2 separate regions of the Homo sapiens genome follow, and region 1 is linked to region 2. A link means that fine-mapping ties the variant in region 2 to the expression of a gene that starts in the linked region. Tissue or cell type: whole blood. Region 2 holds a variant in brackets; the other region holds the start of a gene. All regions are shown on one strand. Distances are between the middles of the regions.

Region 1 (8,105 bases), 140 kb before region 2:
AATACAAAAATTAGTCGGGTGTGGTGGTGCATGCCTGTAGCCCCAGTTACTCGGGAGGCTGAGGCAGAAGAATCACTTGAACGTGGGAGGCGGCGGTTGCAGTGAGCCGAGATCGCACCACTGCACTCCAGCCTGGTGACAGAGTGAGACTCCATCTCAAAGATGATAGATAGATAGATAGATAGATAGATAGATAGATAGATAGATAACAACAACAACAAAACAAATCAAGAAAATGTCCAAGTTTCCATGCATAAGGCCCCTCCTGGTTCTTTCCCCGGCATTAGGGGCCAGAGGATCGCCCCCCACCCCACCCCGGGACTTCCGAAGCCCCCTCTCATCTAGTCTCCCAACGTTCTCCCAGGACACCCGCCCTCCAGCCGCAAGAACTGTCATCCCCCGCCCCTGTCCCCGTGTCATCATTGTCTGTCTCTGTGCCTCCCCTCTCCCCCGAGTGGGGGCTAATCTCTGTCCCCGCGGTGTCCCGCGCCGCGAGCGCAACAGGAGGGGGCGCTGGAGCCCAGGGCCCTTGCGCACCCGAAGGTTTCCGCAGGGCCGCAGCGCCCTCTGCCGGGCCTTGGCGCGCACTCACCGGGGTGGGGGCATTCACCACCGACAGGTTGTAGCCGTAGAGGAAGGAGGAGCCGAAGGCGCCCGCGAGGGAGGCCACGAGGAGCGAGCAGGACCAGTCCTGAGGGGAGAGGAAACCACGTCAGAGCCGGCACCGGGCGCGCAGCCAGGGCCGAGGGAAGACCTGGAACGTTCCCTCAGCTGGGGGAGGCCTTCCGGAGGAGAAGTCTTTGTCCTTGGCTGGGGTAGAGACAGAGAGAAGAGACGCAAGTTGGGGACCTGCAAGTAGGGTTCCAGTCCAGGTCCGCGTGCGCAGGCCGGGCGCCCTCAGGTTTAGCGGCCACGCCCTTGCGTTCCTTCCGGGTTGCGTGAGGATTCCTGAAACGCAGTTTTCAGCAGCTGCTCTGGGCAGCTCCACACGATCCTTTCAGCGAAGTTGGCGAGTGTCCGACCCAGACAGAAAAAAGCAAAGCCAGACTCCAAGCGCTATCAGCCAGGCGTGATTCTAAGCACTTTTCTGCGCATTGTCTCTGAGTCCTTAGATCAGTGCTGTTATGTCCTGTATTACAGGTGAGGAAAGAGGGGCAGGGAGCGTGGCTGGTGCTGTCTAGGATGGGGACTGAAGTCCAGGTGGCCTGGCTGCAGTGCCCCTCTAGTCACCACTGCACTGTCCCCTGCTGACCCGTCACCTGAGTGCCGTTGTCCAAGGGCCTGAGACTGCCGACAGCCAGACAGATGTGCACACACGCTTACATGCACATACTGTTCCAGTCTGAGGCGTCAAACTACAGGGGCTGGTCCAAGCCTCAGGACAAGGACCTGCAGACGTAGAGATGCAAGGTTTGGCACAGAGAACAGGGCGCCTGCCTTGGTGTTGTCCTGCCCTGCAGCCCCATCTAAGGACAGCCACCACCAGTACAGGGCCATAGGGCAGAAACACCTGGATCCCTGGCAAAGGCTGACAAGCTGGCATGAGCCAGGGCAGGAGGGATGGCTGTCCTCAGCTGGTCAGGGAATACAGGCCAAGTGGACAGGGGCCAGGTGCTCCGGAAGGCACCTTCTTTGCCATCATTTGACATATTTGTGAGTGTGTGTGTGTGTGTGTGTGTGTGTGTGTGTGTTGTAGGCGCCAGGCCCTGACAAAGCTGTGGGGGTGCAACAGTGAAGAAGACATATGGATCCATGGTTCAGGGACCCATATCAGTCAAATCCCGTCTGGAAGGGAATGCGGGTCTCTTGATGGCCACTTACCTGCTCTGCCAGTCTCGTTTGTCTCCTCTAGTGCCACCAGCCACGAGATAGAGCTTTGGGGCTTTGAGCCAAGTGATATCAGCTTTACCTCCAGGGCCAGTCCCCTCAGCTGTAGGAGTCTGAGCAAGTGACTTGACTTTTCTGGGGCTCAGCTTGCCCACCTGTGAAATGGGATCTTAATAGCAGCACTGGCCACATATGTTGTTGAGGAGCCTGCTGCAGAGGAGGTGCTCCGTAGAGGCTGCTGATCACATGCGGGGGCAAGAGGGAACATTTATAAGCCTTGGGGATGGGTGCTGCCAATTGAAATGTAGTACCAGAATATTTTTCTGCAGTGAGAGGAGCTTGAGCTGAATGGGGATCCCTGATGGAACAGAATCACATTTCAGATGAAACGCCTGTTCTCTATCACTCTTTCTCTTTAAACCTATCCTCTGAGTCTCGGCACAGATACCACTTCTTCTGAGCCCCTGGGCTGTGCTGGGCATCGTTTCTGTGCTCTGTGCCTTCTTTGCTCCCAGCCCCGATGACCTTAGAGGACACAAACTCCTCCCTGGTCTGCACCCCATCAGATTGGGAGCACCTGGTGTGAAGTGCCCCTGCCAGAGGCTGGTGAAGGGCAGGTGGGGGCCATCTTCTCCTGCCTCAGCTGTGCTCCCCGGAGCCCCCTGCCTGTGTGGCCCGCCTGTGCCCTCCACCCGCTCCCCACTCACTGCACGGGCAGAGGGTGCCCACTGACCGACGGTGCTGCTGCCCGTGCCATGCCCTGGGGAGGGTGAGAAGAGGGACACCACCATGCAAGTGCGGGGCAGGGCAGCCTGCCACCATAGCCTCATTCCATGTACACACCCAGTCTACCAGAGACGCTGTTGGCCCAGTCAGCTGGGGCTTGGAGAGAGCATGCCAAAGTCACACAGATGGAGAAGTGCAACTCAAACTGAGGCCTCCCTGCCTCAAAGCCCCAGATCCCCCAGCTACACGCTGCCAGGCTGGGGCTGAGCACTGTCACACGGCTGCCACCCAGGCCTGCCTTCCCCACAGCCCGCCAGCCATGCAGAAAAGCTGTCCGTAGTTACCTTTCTTCTCCTTCCACCTGGCACCCCACTCCTCAGGTGGTCACACTCCAGCAGTGCCCTCCCTGGCCCTGGAGGCCCGGCGTGGCTGGTGTCATCTGTGAGGGGAACTAGGCCCAGTTCCTTGGAATTCCTATTTTGTTTCCTTGCCATGGGTCTCAGTGACCCAGCTGATGGCTCAGTCCAGGGACCCCAGACTCTGCCAAGGCATTTCCGTGAGTGAGGAGGCAGAGTCCACTGGAAGGAGGGCGGGAGTTCCTGACAGGAAGTGTGGCAATTTGATCATGCCTGAACAGGCAACGGGGCAACATTTTTTTCTCTGCTCCTAAGTTATTACAGCAATGAAACAGTCCAAAAAGGGAAATCTGTCCTCTCCAGGATTGCCACCCAGGGGGTGGAATTTTTTTTTTTTTTCTTAGCATCTTTTTATTTTTCTCTGGTAACAAAGCCTGGAGCAGGGTGACTGCCATTAACCTAGGATACCTCCCTAATGCTTGGAACAGAATGGAGAGGTGGCTGACTTTGACTCAGAAGCCTGCATACAGCTCTGCCCCTGACTCTTCCACTTTTTTTTTTTTTTTTTGACCGAATCTTGCTCTGTTGCCCGGGCTGGAGTGCACTGATGCAATCTCTGCTCACTGCAACCTCCGCACCTGGGTTCAAGCAATTCTCCTGCCTCAGCCTCCCAAGTAGCTGGAACTATAGGCGTGTGCCACCACGCCTGGCTGATTTTTGTATTTTTAGTAGAGACTGTGTTTCACCATGTTGGCCAGGCTGGTCTTGACCTCCTTACCTCAGGTGATCTGCCCACCTCAGCCTCCCAAAGTGCTGGAATTAGAGGCGTAAGCCACCATGTCTGGCCAACTCCTCCACTTTTTAACTGTGTGTCCTCAGGCAAGTCACTTTATTCTCTGAGCTGCAACTTCTACCACTGCAAAATGGAATATTGACCCCACTCTGACTGTCCTGCAGACTTATTCTGAAGCTCAAATAGAAAACAGCCAGCCCCAAGTGGCGTGCTGTAAATGAGTGTGGGCTCTCCTGTAGCCTAGAACAAAGGCGAGGGCTGTGGGTTTGGAAGAAAAAGAATTTGCCTCTTAGTCGTTACTCTGTCCTGCTCATTCAGCACTGGCTGAGGGGACATGTCCTGTATTCCAGCCCCAGGCTGGCTCAAGGACAGTACTGAGAAGGCAAGGGCCTCATGCACACCAGGAGGTTGTGGGAATCAGTTCATCACATGGCCATGTTGCCTCAGACGCCAGAGAAGCACCTTCAATTTTGGCTAGAACAGTTTGCTCCCAGAAGCAGAGAGCAGTGCAGAGTCTGGGCCAGAGCCAGGGACAGGCTTGGTGAATGCAGAACGTCCAGGAGGCAAGGTAGGGCTCAGTCCACAAAAGAGAGATCGAAAAGTTAGCAAAGTACGTTTAGTAAAAAGCACACAATAAAATAAAAGGTGTGGAGTACGGCAGACATTCCAGGAACCTGGAATGTGAAACGCACGTGGAAACGTCCGGCCCTGACATGCACGGTGGTGGGAATGTGGCTGCTCAAAGCAAGTGGGGAATCAAGACTTCCAAAGAGGAAAACCACCCTCAGGAGTTAGGTTGGGGATGTATTGAGCACGCCAGTCATTCAGTGCAATCGTCCTTCTGTGTGTTAATCAGTCAGGCATGCCCCGGGAGAAGTGGCTGTTTCTTGAACTGGATTTCAGCTATGCAGCCTGGTTTCCTCATTGAGTGGTGGGCCTAGAGCAGCATTCTGATGTGCAAATCCTTAATTATAACATGACCTAAAAAGGCGGAGGATTCCCCAGGACAGTGTGGAGGAGGCACCACATCAATCTCAGCTGGATCTTGGAGACCCCGCTGGAAGAGGCGGCTTCTGAGCGGACAGAGAAGGATACGGGGTGAGAGGACAAGGAGCCAAGGCCTGCAGGCACAGATGCCTGCAGTGTGTGGGAGGAAGTGAAATTGTCAGTGAAGCATGGTTGGGGCCTGAAGTACAGGAGATGGGCAGAGGAGGGGCAGGGACAGCTGCATCCCTGTGCATGGAGGGCCCCTCTGCCCCTATGCTGTCCTGATAGGGACTGCATTTTCATCATCTCATTTACCCCTCCTCATCCCATTGCTGTGACTCCCCTCTCTATACCCTCCCTGTTTCCTCATCTGTAACAGTGGGGACCTCACCAGATTTTGCTAAAGCTCAAATTGGATCAGGTGTCCCCTCATCCCGTTAAAAATTGCTTCGTAGTCCTCTGTTGGGTTTGAAAACTCAAAAGGAACCAGAAATTAGGCAGTGGACATGAATGTGCAGCTACAGCTGGACAGAAAGTAAAAGAGCGGAGATGGGTCCCTCCCGGATCCAGATGGTAGCTAACCAGGGTTCCTGGTAGCCACAGCACTTGCCTCACCTTCAGCTCCTACTACATGTGCACAGCTCATGTTACATGTGCACAGGGCTTTCCCAAGTGTGTTCACCTTCATGATATCGTTTAGTCCTCAGAGGAACTATCAGACCTACATTTCGGGGCAACTGAAGTTCAGGGGGAGCATGGAGGAGCCTGCCTCCAAAGCGAGGGCTGGTTCCCCATTCCACAGGGCCATCGGCCCTGCACTGCAGGCAACTGCTAAGGAAGCGACTCCTATCACAGATGAAGTCATAAGACAAACATCCCCAGATGTTCTGGGCTGGGGCACGTTCTGCCTGCTCTGACACTCACTGGTTCCTTCATTCAGTCATTACTTGCCTGTCTTTATGAAGCTCCTACTCATTCAGGTTCTCCTGACCTTGCTCAGGCCCTCACTTCTGACTGCCCTGAACTGTGCTCACCCTTCAGCACTTAACTCTCTCGCCACCTCCTCCCAGCAGCCTCCCCAACCTCTCGCTGCCTCTGTGCTCCATGTGTGCCTTCCCCTCTGCACGTGTGCTGCTGCTCACGTGTGCCTTCCCCTCTGCACGGGAGCTCACTGTGGGCAGGGATGGTGTGCGTCTCAATGGGCTGATTGTGTCCCCTCAGATTCACATGTTGAAGTCCTCACCCCAAGTACCTGACAATGTGACTGTATTTGGAGATAGGGTTTTTGAAGAGGTAATTAAGGTTAAATGAAGTCATATGCATGGGGCTGTATTCCAGTATGCCTGGTGTCCTTATAGGAAGAGGAAATGAGGACACAGACACACACAGAGGGATGACCACGTGAGGACGCAGGGAGAAGGCAGCCACTTCTGCCAAGAAGGGAGGCTTCAGAAGGAACTAACCTGCTGACACTCTGAGCTTGGACTTCTGGTTTCTAAGACTGTGAGACAATACATTTCTGTTGTTTAAGCTGCCCAGTCTATGGGACTTTGTCTTGGCAGCCCCAGCAAACCCACAGTGTCCTAAGCCTCTTTGTATTCCTAGACTTCCTTCAGCCTGGCTCAGGGACAGGGTCCAGTAGATAGGCATCACTTCTGGAACTGACCTTAAACTGTCCTCCGGATGATTTCCTAAGGCTAAAAAGTTGTCTTGGACAAGGTGGAAGTTTTCTAGCAGGGAAGAGTTGGAAAAGAAGGGGGGTTTTCTATTGAGTATCATTTAAGCAGAATGTTTGAAATGACTACATCCCTTCCTTCATTACACCAAATACTTAGACAGTAGATCCTTGACTCACCTAATGTAAGCACCAAGAAAAGATATAGCGTCCACTTAGAGGGAACTGCTGTCTATTTGACATTATTCTTGCGTGGGGTCTTGGGTAACCTCAAACAGGTGACTGCACCCTTATCCTCCATTTCACACCTCTGTGGGGACAATGATGTTCAGCTTGCCAATTTCACACCTTCTTGACAACTTGGTAAATGGACTTGTGTTGATCTCTGTCCTACCAAATACAGGTTTATTATAAATACAAATAAATTTTCCCTGGAGTCACAGTAGCTTCCACACCCATCACAGGAGGTGAGGCACAGATAATCCAAGGTTTAAGAAGGGCTCAAACCTGTACTAGCCACATAGCCTTGGACAAGTGGCTTCATCCCTTTCTGAGCCTCAGTTCATCGCCTGTAAAATAGGGCCAGTGATGCCTTCAGCATGGTTTGATCCAGAGAGAACCATGTAAAGAGTCTCTCTTTAAATGAGAGCCCTATGTAAAGGTCCAGCACAGAGTAGGCACTCTCTGGCTGTTGGTTCTTGAATCAGGTTTAAAAAGAGCATCTGATGAGTCCCAAGAAGAAAGAAAGTCATTCTATTAATAGGAGCTGAGGACTTCCTGGAGGAAGGGGCAGGTCGACTAAGCTTTGTGATGGATTAAGGGGTGGGTTTTAGTGTATCTTTAACGATGATGACATAATCATTGTCAACATCAATGTCCCCTTGTTGAGAAATGACCTTTGTAATGGAGACTTTTGCCCCAAGCCCAGAAAGTCACCAGCAGATCAGGACTGTCAATTTCACTCTTCTGAGCCTCATCCCAGACACTCTACAATCCCCATGGCTCCTTCCCATAGAACTTGGCTTTCAGCTGCTGCTCACTCTTTTCTCTGCCCAGCTTCACCTTAACAGCCTCCCACTGACCCAGGGGAAAGGGGTACTACCCCCTGGGTGACCGGAATAATCATGTAAGGGAGACAGAAAAAAAAAAGGACTGACCAATTTCTTTTTCGCTGAATCACTTTCTTCATCTTCTCCTCGGTCCTTTTTACTGAGCTTCATGGTTCACTTTTCAGGTTTTGAACTTTTGTTGTTATTGTTTCTGAGAAAGAGAAAAAGAAAGAAGCCATTAGACAGCTGCTTTCTCAGATGTGCAAGTCAGGGGAGGTGGCCTGGAGCAGTCTTCGAAAGGTTTGCTGTGAGGAGCTCTGGCTGGGATGCCAGGATAGGACACAGCAGCATCCTCGCTTGGGCATCTCCCTGCTCTCCTCTGTCCTCAGTTTCTCTATTTTTGAGTGCAGGGCTTCCCACACTTGCCTTGTTGATTATTAAATACAGGCAATGATCCCATTCCTCTTCTGCATCATCAATTTATCTCTCTGTGTTGGATCTCCCCGGGCTATGTACAAAAATGTCCTAGTGTCACCCATATTTTTTTTTTAAAAATCAACTAAAAGTTTTTGGCAAGGATGTGGAGAAATTGGAACCCTTGTATAGGATTGTCTTTGCTAGTGGAAATGTGAAATGGTTTAGCTACTGTGGGAAAAAGTTTGCTTGTTTCTCTAAACATAAAATCACCACAT
Region 2 (8,105 bases):
GCTTGTTTCAAAGGTGACCAAACAACCACCTAATGTCTGAGCCCCTGCTGGCCTGTCCTTATCAGGCAATGTTTGCTGTAATGGCCTAGCTACTCCTGACCCATCAGGCATTGGGGGCACCAAGAAATGGCCCAGTGTAGCAGCAGTTCCTGCTCACCTTCCGGCAAAAGGAGCCAAACATGACCTGGCAGTGTAGTTGGGTCCTCTGGAAGTATCTGGAGCTACACTGTCTAGGTCTGCTTTGGACCTACGTTTGGGAAGTAAATGCCTTCTAAACTCACTATCCGGGGTCATTGTGGGTAATAAGGGAGAAGCATCAGAGAACAGTTGTTGGTTTAAAGTAGGTACTGCAACTGGAGTGCATTGTGCTTGTCATAGGTTGTTTCCTGGCAGCAAACTGTCTCTTGAAACTGCTGGTAAACTGAGGCAGGCTACGGAAGAGGCTCTTGCAAGCCTGACTGTTCGCTCCTTTGAACCAGGCTGAGACTACTTCCGTGGGTGGTTTGTGGTGGGGTAGTTGAGCGCTTGGGGAAGGACACTTTAAGCCAACACTAAGTTTGTATAAAATATTCAGATTAAAACCCATGAAGAGAGAAAGGAGGCAGGATGGGGCTGAAGTCAGACTGGGACGTAAGACTTGTCAGTCTTGCTGAGCCTGGTGGAGAGGGTCCAGAGCATACAAAAAAGGCATTCCTGTACTCCAGCCAGTGGACCCTCTCCCTTAAACCTTCTGTGCTGACCTCATTACAAAGTATCTCCTTGATCTATATTTAAATTTCTGTCTTTAAGTTTTTAGATTGGCACACAATGTGAATGGACGAATTCTGTAATGTGTTCTAGGTGGTTCATGGTATAGGCTTAAGACACCAATTGTGCAATGTGAAAAGTCACACGGTGACACACGTGTCCTCTTGGGAAGACCAGGTGGACCTTGGACTTTACACAACTAAGTTTATAACAACCAGTCTAACACCAATGTGTACTAGCAAACCCAGGGGACTTCTGCCTACTTCCATACTGGAGGAGCCAAGTGGGTTGTTTGACTTTCTACAGCGATCTGAGAATGAAATAATTGGGTATGTGAAGTCAATTTGTGTTCCCTAGAGGCAGACTTGTAGATGGAAATTGTTTAAGGTGTTAGGTTTACTGGTGAAGTGAGCTCTCACACCTGAAAGCAAACTGGAACAGGGTGGAATGCAAACTGTTTGTTTTGGAAAAGAAGCTTAAATGAGGCCATAATCTCTGGAGCCAGAGTAGCTTCCACAGCTAGCCTTGAATATTACCTGGCTGGGCTTTTGTGTACTCCTCACACTCCTAGCCATTGGAAGTGGCCACATCCAGGGATGTGGCATAACATTGGCTCAAGAAACTTTGCATTACGACGAGGGCTGTTGTCCGCAGAAGAATGTTGAAACTTCTAGCCCAGGTATCGGGTGTAGCATAGTACCCAGCTCCTTGGAAAGGGAAGGGTGTACTGCCTGTCTTCTGAAAAGGGCAGATCCTGAGACCTTTATCTGGGGACCTGTCCTTGAACTGCTGAGGTTTCCCATGCATCCTAGCAGGGCTTTGAGTTCCTCAATTCTAGGACCATGGATCCACCTACCAAGGGAAGCTCAGGTGATGAGCTGCAGGGTGGGAAAGGAGGCTCCTAGGTGACCCTGGACTTGGCTTCACCATCATTGTGAGATTGACAGCTGGTGGAGCTGGTTGTGTGTACTGAAGGTTGGGTGGGGGTGGTGTTCAAGGGGCTTCCCTGAGTGACTACTTGGGACCTTTATCATGTTTTAGATGCCCTCAATCTTGCTAGTGCTCCATTCTTCACTTAGGGGGGACTAGCTGTGAGCCCCCACCTGTATTGCCACAGCCTAAGTGACATCAGATGAACTGGGAAGTGGTGCTGTGGACTGGCCACACTCCAGGGCCTTGTACTTGCTTATTATAAACTTGGCTTCTTTCCTGGGGACTAGGCTACAGTAGCTGGTGGTCCCCCTCCCCCGCTCATTTTGGGGAAGATTCTCTCTACCTGATGTGTTTCAGAAGAATGCCTCAAACTCCTGTTCTTAAGCAGTTGCTAAAATCTACCTTCATTTAGTCTGAGTCCAGGTGATTTGGGAGATAGAACTGGAAAACATGAGCACGGCCTCACCCCCAAGTCAATGTTGGTGATCTGTGCATGCCCCCAAAGAGCTCAGTGGCCTTTTCTTGGGCCTCAAGCCATAAGAATAAGCCAAGTGGCCCATCTCTAAGCCAGCAGTCCCTCTAGGCATGTGGCATAACCTGTTGTCTATGCTCGGGTTGGGAACTTCTATGCTTGGTGTTCCCCAAGCCCTTTCGCATTACTTGCAGGATGTGTCTGTGCATCCTGTATTCTGGCTGGAAGGCGTGTGCAAGTGCAGCCAGCCAGGAATAAGGTAGAGGAGGAAATACTGTATAGGTGTCTCGCTGTGTTGCAAGAAACCGCTGGGCAGGGATGGGTTGTGAGGGTCAAAATCCCCCCTGTGGAAGACAGCTGAGTGGATGTCTCTTAGGAACACTGGAGGGCCATTGGGTTTCTCCACAGGGGAGATGATGTATGCCTGCTGCCAAATGACTACTTCCAATTCTCAGTGTGGAGAGTCAGGGTAGCTTGGGTCAGGCAAGGAGCATTCCCTGGGGAGCAGACTGCCTGCCTCCTAGAACACATCTCCTAAACTGAGCTCCTAGGGCTTATGATACTGCCTTTTTTCCTCTTGATTTGGGACATCCTTTTCCTATTATGGCCTGGGACTGGGACCGGGACCGGCACCACAGTCATAGTGTGTGGGATACAGCCCACTGTGGGTCTGAATGACCTCTGTGCCTTCCTGTAGGCTGCTATCGGGTCACATGTAGCCTGTCTGGGCAGAGGCTGAGAAGCTGCTCTGATGCTGCTTGCAGGTGAGTCCTTGGAGGACTGAGTTCCTGCTCCCTCTCCATGACCCATGTATGGCTGGCTATCATCCCAGGGGGCTTTCTACGTTCCAACATACCTTCAAGAATCTTGCTACATACTTCATTCAGTTTTACCTGTGGATATAACTTTATCTACTAAGACTTTAAACTACATATTAACCT[TA/T]AAAAAAAAAAAAAACTGTATGGCTTATAGTGGGCAGTTTACCTTGGCTGAACACATCTTTAAAACAATTAGGAAATGTGGAAAATTTGACGTTAATACCTAATTGGCACATATATTCAATTCACTGAAAGAAGTTTGCAATAAGGCCTCAAATTCAATGGCAAGAAACTTCTACACTTCATAGTTGGGCAAACACCTAAATTCATTGCCTGAATGACTTCCTGAACATCCTCTGGATATTAAACTCAATTCCTGGTTGGTGTCTTGGGAAAAGACAATTGGACAAGAACATGTCTGAGGAAGAAATGGGTATTATCACTGAAATTCTGACCAACAGCCAGTTGGGGGCAGGGGTGAGCAGCGAACCACAAATCCCCTGCTTCCCAAGCTTTCTTTTCACCTCGTCTTTGAGGATTCTTCTCCAAAACTAGTGTCTGTATCATGATGGTTACAAACCTTCCTACTCCACCTCTCCTCCCAGTTTGTCTTCAGTAAAAGCAAAAATTCCCTACTAATAAAGTTGGATACTCATTGACCCAGGACAAGTGAAAAAGATCCACGGCAAGGCTGTAAGTCTAGGAAGCACAGACTAAACTTAGCTGGATACATTATGGTACAGCTTTATGTCAAATCTAAATTTAAAAACGATCCAATTCAACTAAAATGGTGCAAAATTATGCTTGCACATTGTGAATATGGTTCCTTAAATTCATCAGGTAACTTAAAACTCAATTTGAGTGGGAAGCAACCTTAAAAGCTTTAAAAAGCAGAAAAAAACCCACAACTCAGTAGAAAATAAAGTGCCTTGTGTGTTTATCCTGGAGACAAACCATAAAGGCCTCAGGTTATTGAACTCAAATATCCTGAAAAATGTTTTTTGGGAAAGAATTTTAAGTAGGGGAGTTGATGCTGTTTTGTGCAATGGGGCTGAGCTCTGTGCCCACTGAGTTGGCATAGTGGTGATGTTCTTAGTCACGTTCATCAGGGCTCTCTGAAATTCATAACATGTAAACATGCTAGTCTGTAAGTTGTCCTCGTGCTTAGATGAAACTGTAAATGCTCTGGAAGGCAAAGGGAGCTTTTCTCATTGGTCGACCATTGTTCCAGTACTGCATTAAACTGCTCTGGTCAGAAGTTGTCAGTGATGCTATAAATGAGCTTTCCATTCCAGTGCAAGGGAATTGACCAGTGAGGTAGGTTTTGTGTAACTTTGCACTTGCAGGACACATTTAGTCACCAGTCACTCCATTCCTTGTTAGGATCAGAAATACAAGCGGGAGAAGCTGAAACCAGTTAACAGCTGGTAGATCTAGAAGCATTAGGCCAAGTGGGATACATCTTTCCAATATACGGAATATCTTGCATAGGTCAAAAAGGCATAATTGAGATGCTTGTTAGCAACTTTTCAAGTTTGGTGTTGAGCATTTTGAGTTTGCTTTTTAACTAAAGTTTTCAACGGCATCATGCACAGTATCAACTTCTCTAGCCAACTGATCTCAATTCCTTGATATTTAGCATGTCACAGCTTTCATGACTAGGGATTGTTTTTGTCTGCTTTTCATCTCATTCATGAAAGCCTGAGTGTCAAATACTCAAACTGCTTCCACCCTAGTTCCTTCTTCAGATATAGCCAATGACAAAGCAGGAGCAATGACGTTGAAAGAATCCTCCAAGAGCCTTGGATTCCTGTAGTCTTGGTCCCTTCATGGAGTTGCTTTGGGATCCAGGGACATCTTGAATGTTAGTCTGAGTGCCGCTGCAGGTGTTGTCTTTGTCTATCAATTTCTGGGAAGGAGAATTAAAGGACTCTGTCTTAACACTTACACTTGAAGTCTACAACTAGAGTGAAGCAGTTCTTATGGCAGTATTCTGAGAAATTCAGTACAGGAGCAAACGGCTATTTCTTCTCTCAACTCCTTTACAATGGTCAGCTGAGGAAGTTCCCAGCTGAGAGCTGCTGAAGTCATGTCTAGAAGAGTAGACACCTGGGAGTATGACTTGTTCTACTTATTAACTAGAATCAATGGTAACTTGTGAAATGTTTCCATCTTCAAACCGAGGCTCTGTATCTCAACCTATGAAGCAGCAGGCACTGCTGTGGGGGGCGGGGGTGTGTCTTAAGTTGACATCTGCCACCCACTGGTGTGTGCTTGGCCTGTTAAGGTATGAAGACCGGACTTCAGAGGTCAGCACCATGGAATCGACTGAGGCTTTGTCGTTAAGTGCCATAGATATGCCCTTCTTCCTGATGTTCTATACCTACGGGAGGCTTTTCATCAAGACCTCACTTAACACACTAGAGGCACAACGTAGCACCTTCAAGGTATGGGGGTGAAATTGGAGGCAGGAAGCAAAAATAAACTGTTGCCTCCTGGCTTTCCTGGAACTCAGGTGTGTCCAACATGAAACGGGAGATGAGTGAACCCAGACACCTCTGTCTGCAGGGATACTTCTCCCGTGGATCCCACACCACCCAACTCCATAGGCCTCTTGTGGCGATTGCACTGCCTCTGGTGTCCTGGCCCTGGTTGTGATTCTATCCCCACAAGGCCAGCAAAGTCTGAGGTGAAAGTTGTCACCACGATTGTATAAATCCTCTTGAGAGAAGCAGGCTCTTCCAGGGCAGGCAGTTCCTCTGAGGAAGATGAATCTGCTCTGAATTTCACAGGGATGTTTCCCTTGTCCACTTCAGACAACCTTTGTGATGTCTGGATTCCAGTCTCAGCTCTGCTGGGAGCATCCTTTTGATGTGGGTAGGCAAAGGTGCAGATATGTATGCCTCTAACTTTTGGCCTTTGCTCAGCTCTAATAGTTGGCACTGGGCCTACAGAATGTCCTGGTGAAGCAGGTTAACCGGTGGTGGTTTTTGATGGTAATCGGTGAGCTTGGTATACTGAGGCTTTGGTCAGTTACTGCGCTCTGCCCTCTTTGGGTGGAGTGTTGTCACCTATAACAGACCTTCTGTTTGGTCTCCTTTGCTGGCGTTCCTGGTAACATGGTTATGCCTGGGGAATTAGAAGCCTGCTGTCCCTCTTCAGTTCCTACTGATGGTTGTTCAAACATGGGATTATCTTCCTCGATCTCTCTGAAGGTTCCACTCCTTGCCTCCTGACTTCTCCATACTCAAGTGGAGGTTGATCCAAGAGTCTTTTCTACCTCCCAATGCTGGTTGGCATTTCTGTAAGCGTCCTGAAACCCCCAGGTATTGTCCACCACCTAGATGTTAAGGCATAAGGTAGAAACTCTAAGGCAAAACTCAGATGTATCCCTGACATCTCTGCTGGTGCAGGAAGGCCTGCCATGGGGAAGATGGCAGTGTAAGGCAACTGGCCTGGAGTCCAGTCAGCAGAGACCTGCCACTGGCTGTGGGTTGATCAAGTGTCCTTCAGTGTCCCAGACTGCCAAAGACCAGCTTGGTTGTGGAGACCCTAACCCAGTGGCACTAGAGGAATTAAAGACAGAGACACAGGAATGAAGTGGGAATCAAAGAGCTGACAGCCTTCAGAGCTTGAGAGTCAGTCTGACCCATACATTTGACAAAGTCAGTGATAAGCATAGTTTCTACATATTACAGACTAGCTAAAAGCATTCCTTATGGGAAAGAAAGCATTCTTAGTGAGGAGCAGAGAAACAGGCCCTGGCTGATTATCTGCAGCAAAAGCATGTTAAGGCACCGGCAGCTCCTGCTATTGTTTGTGGTTTGAGTAGTTTTCCTGCTCTGGGTGGGCCAGGTTTTCCTAGCGCTGCTCCAGTAAACCAACCTTTAGCAGTGTGTGTGATAGCCATCATGAGCATGTCACATTGCTGCAGAAATCCTGTTTATGGCCAGTTTAACGCCTGTTTATGACAGGGTTAGGGCTTGCTACCAGCAAGGCCCCCTTTTCCTTTTTGTAAAGCGATAAAGGCATAGGCAGCTTTGTCATGGTGGGCTACTTCTCGCAAGATTCGGGATCCGCATCTGTAGGCTACAGACTACACAGATTAAAAGCACAGTCATAGAAATCAGAGTCTCCAAGTGTCTTGATCCATTTTAATGGGTTAATAGCTGCTAATCCATCTGCAGCTCCTTCAAGCACTGGCATTAGCGTCAGATGTTCCTGAGAGGCTTCTGAAACACTTGTTCCTTCAGTTTTGCAATATCTGAAGAAAATATCCAGTATGACCTTTTAAATGTTAACTTTTTCCCACTCATGCTGTTTCATTTCACAGATGAGGAGTAACGTAAAAAGAAGTACTCCAGTCACATTGTAACTGTACTCTATATTCTAACTACTCAATCTCCTAGCCACATTAGTTTGTTGGAGATCTCATTGATGTGATTAGCTAGTTCGTGGTCTATTTGGGAACTCCACAGCAAAGTAGAATTTTCTACCAATTATTTACATAGTCTGCTGTTTGTACTGTGTAATGCAAAGCAACTCCAGCTACTGTGGCAGCAGCTGTGACAACCTTTTGAAGAATTTTAGTAACAATATGCACAGGAGAGGCTTCCCAAGGACAGGAAAGCTTTACGGGTATCCATACTCCTCCTCGGGCTCTTACCACTAAAATAGAATGATCAGTATTATACAAGGAAGAATTAACACAAGAAAACTACATTCCTGACAAGTTACATGATTAGGGAGATCAAGTTTTAAAAAACCCACTCTACCAACAGGAAAGGCAGATGGACACAACTCTGTATCCGGACTGAATCGTTAGGCCAATTCTACTATGTAATTAGGATTATATTGGGCTGGCTTAATAAATTTCCCTTCCCAAATCTTTTTTTCAGTGCCATTAAGATTTTCCATAATTCCTTACGTTTAGCTCCTACAGCACGCCATATCATTTGGGGTTGCGGTACCACTATACCATATGCCCAAATAATAGGAACCCTTGCTGTACTTAGTGTCCACCATCAGATTATTTTTTGTTTAGATGCAGAGTGACCACTACCTGCAGATTGAGAGGTGGGGCCTCATAGATGCCCCTTTAGGGGACCAATCAATAACTCCATATGAATCATTAT

The links. PIP is the estimated chance that this variant, and not a neighbour inherited with it, causes the effect.
Region 1: it holds the start of SLC2A9, and the variant in region 2 is fine-mapped to the expression of SLC2A9 in whole blood (INTERVAL, PIP above 0.99).

The regions. Positions count from the first base shown.
Region 1 is chr4:10,018,383-10,026,487 of GRCh38, forward strand. SLC2A9 (solute carrier family 2 member 9) reads right to left here and starts at 3,115. Exons shown (of 12, transcript NM_020041.3): 1 at 2,898-3,115; 2 at 593-691. The coding sequence starts at 3,047. RefSeq lists a silencer at 424-583 and an enhancer at 2,597-3,096.
Region 2 is chr4:10,161,585-10,169,689 of GRCh38, forward strand. No RefSeq gene overlaps it. Among named protein-coding and RNA genes, the nearest start is that of WDR1, 49 kb to the left of the region's middle. The variant TA/T (reference allele first, on the strand shown) is at 3,094.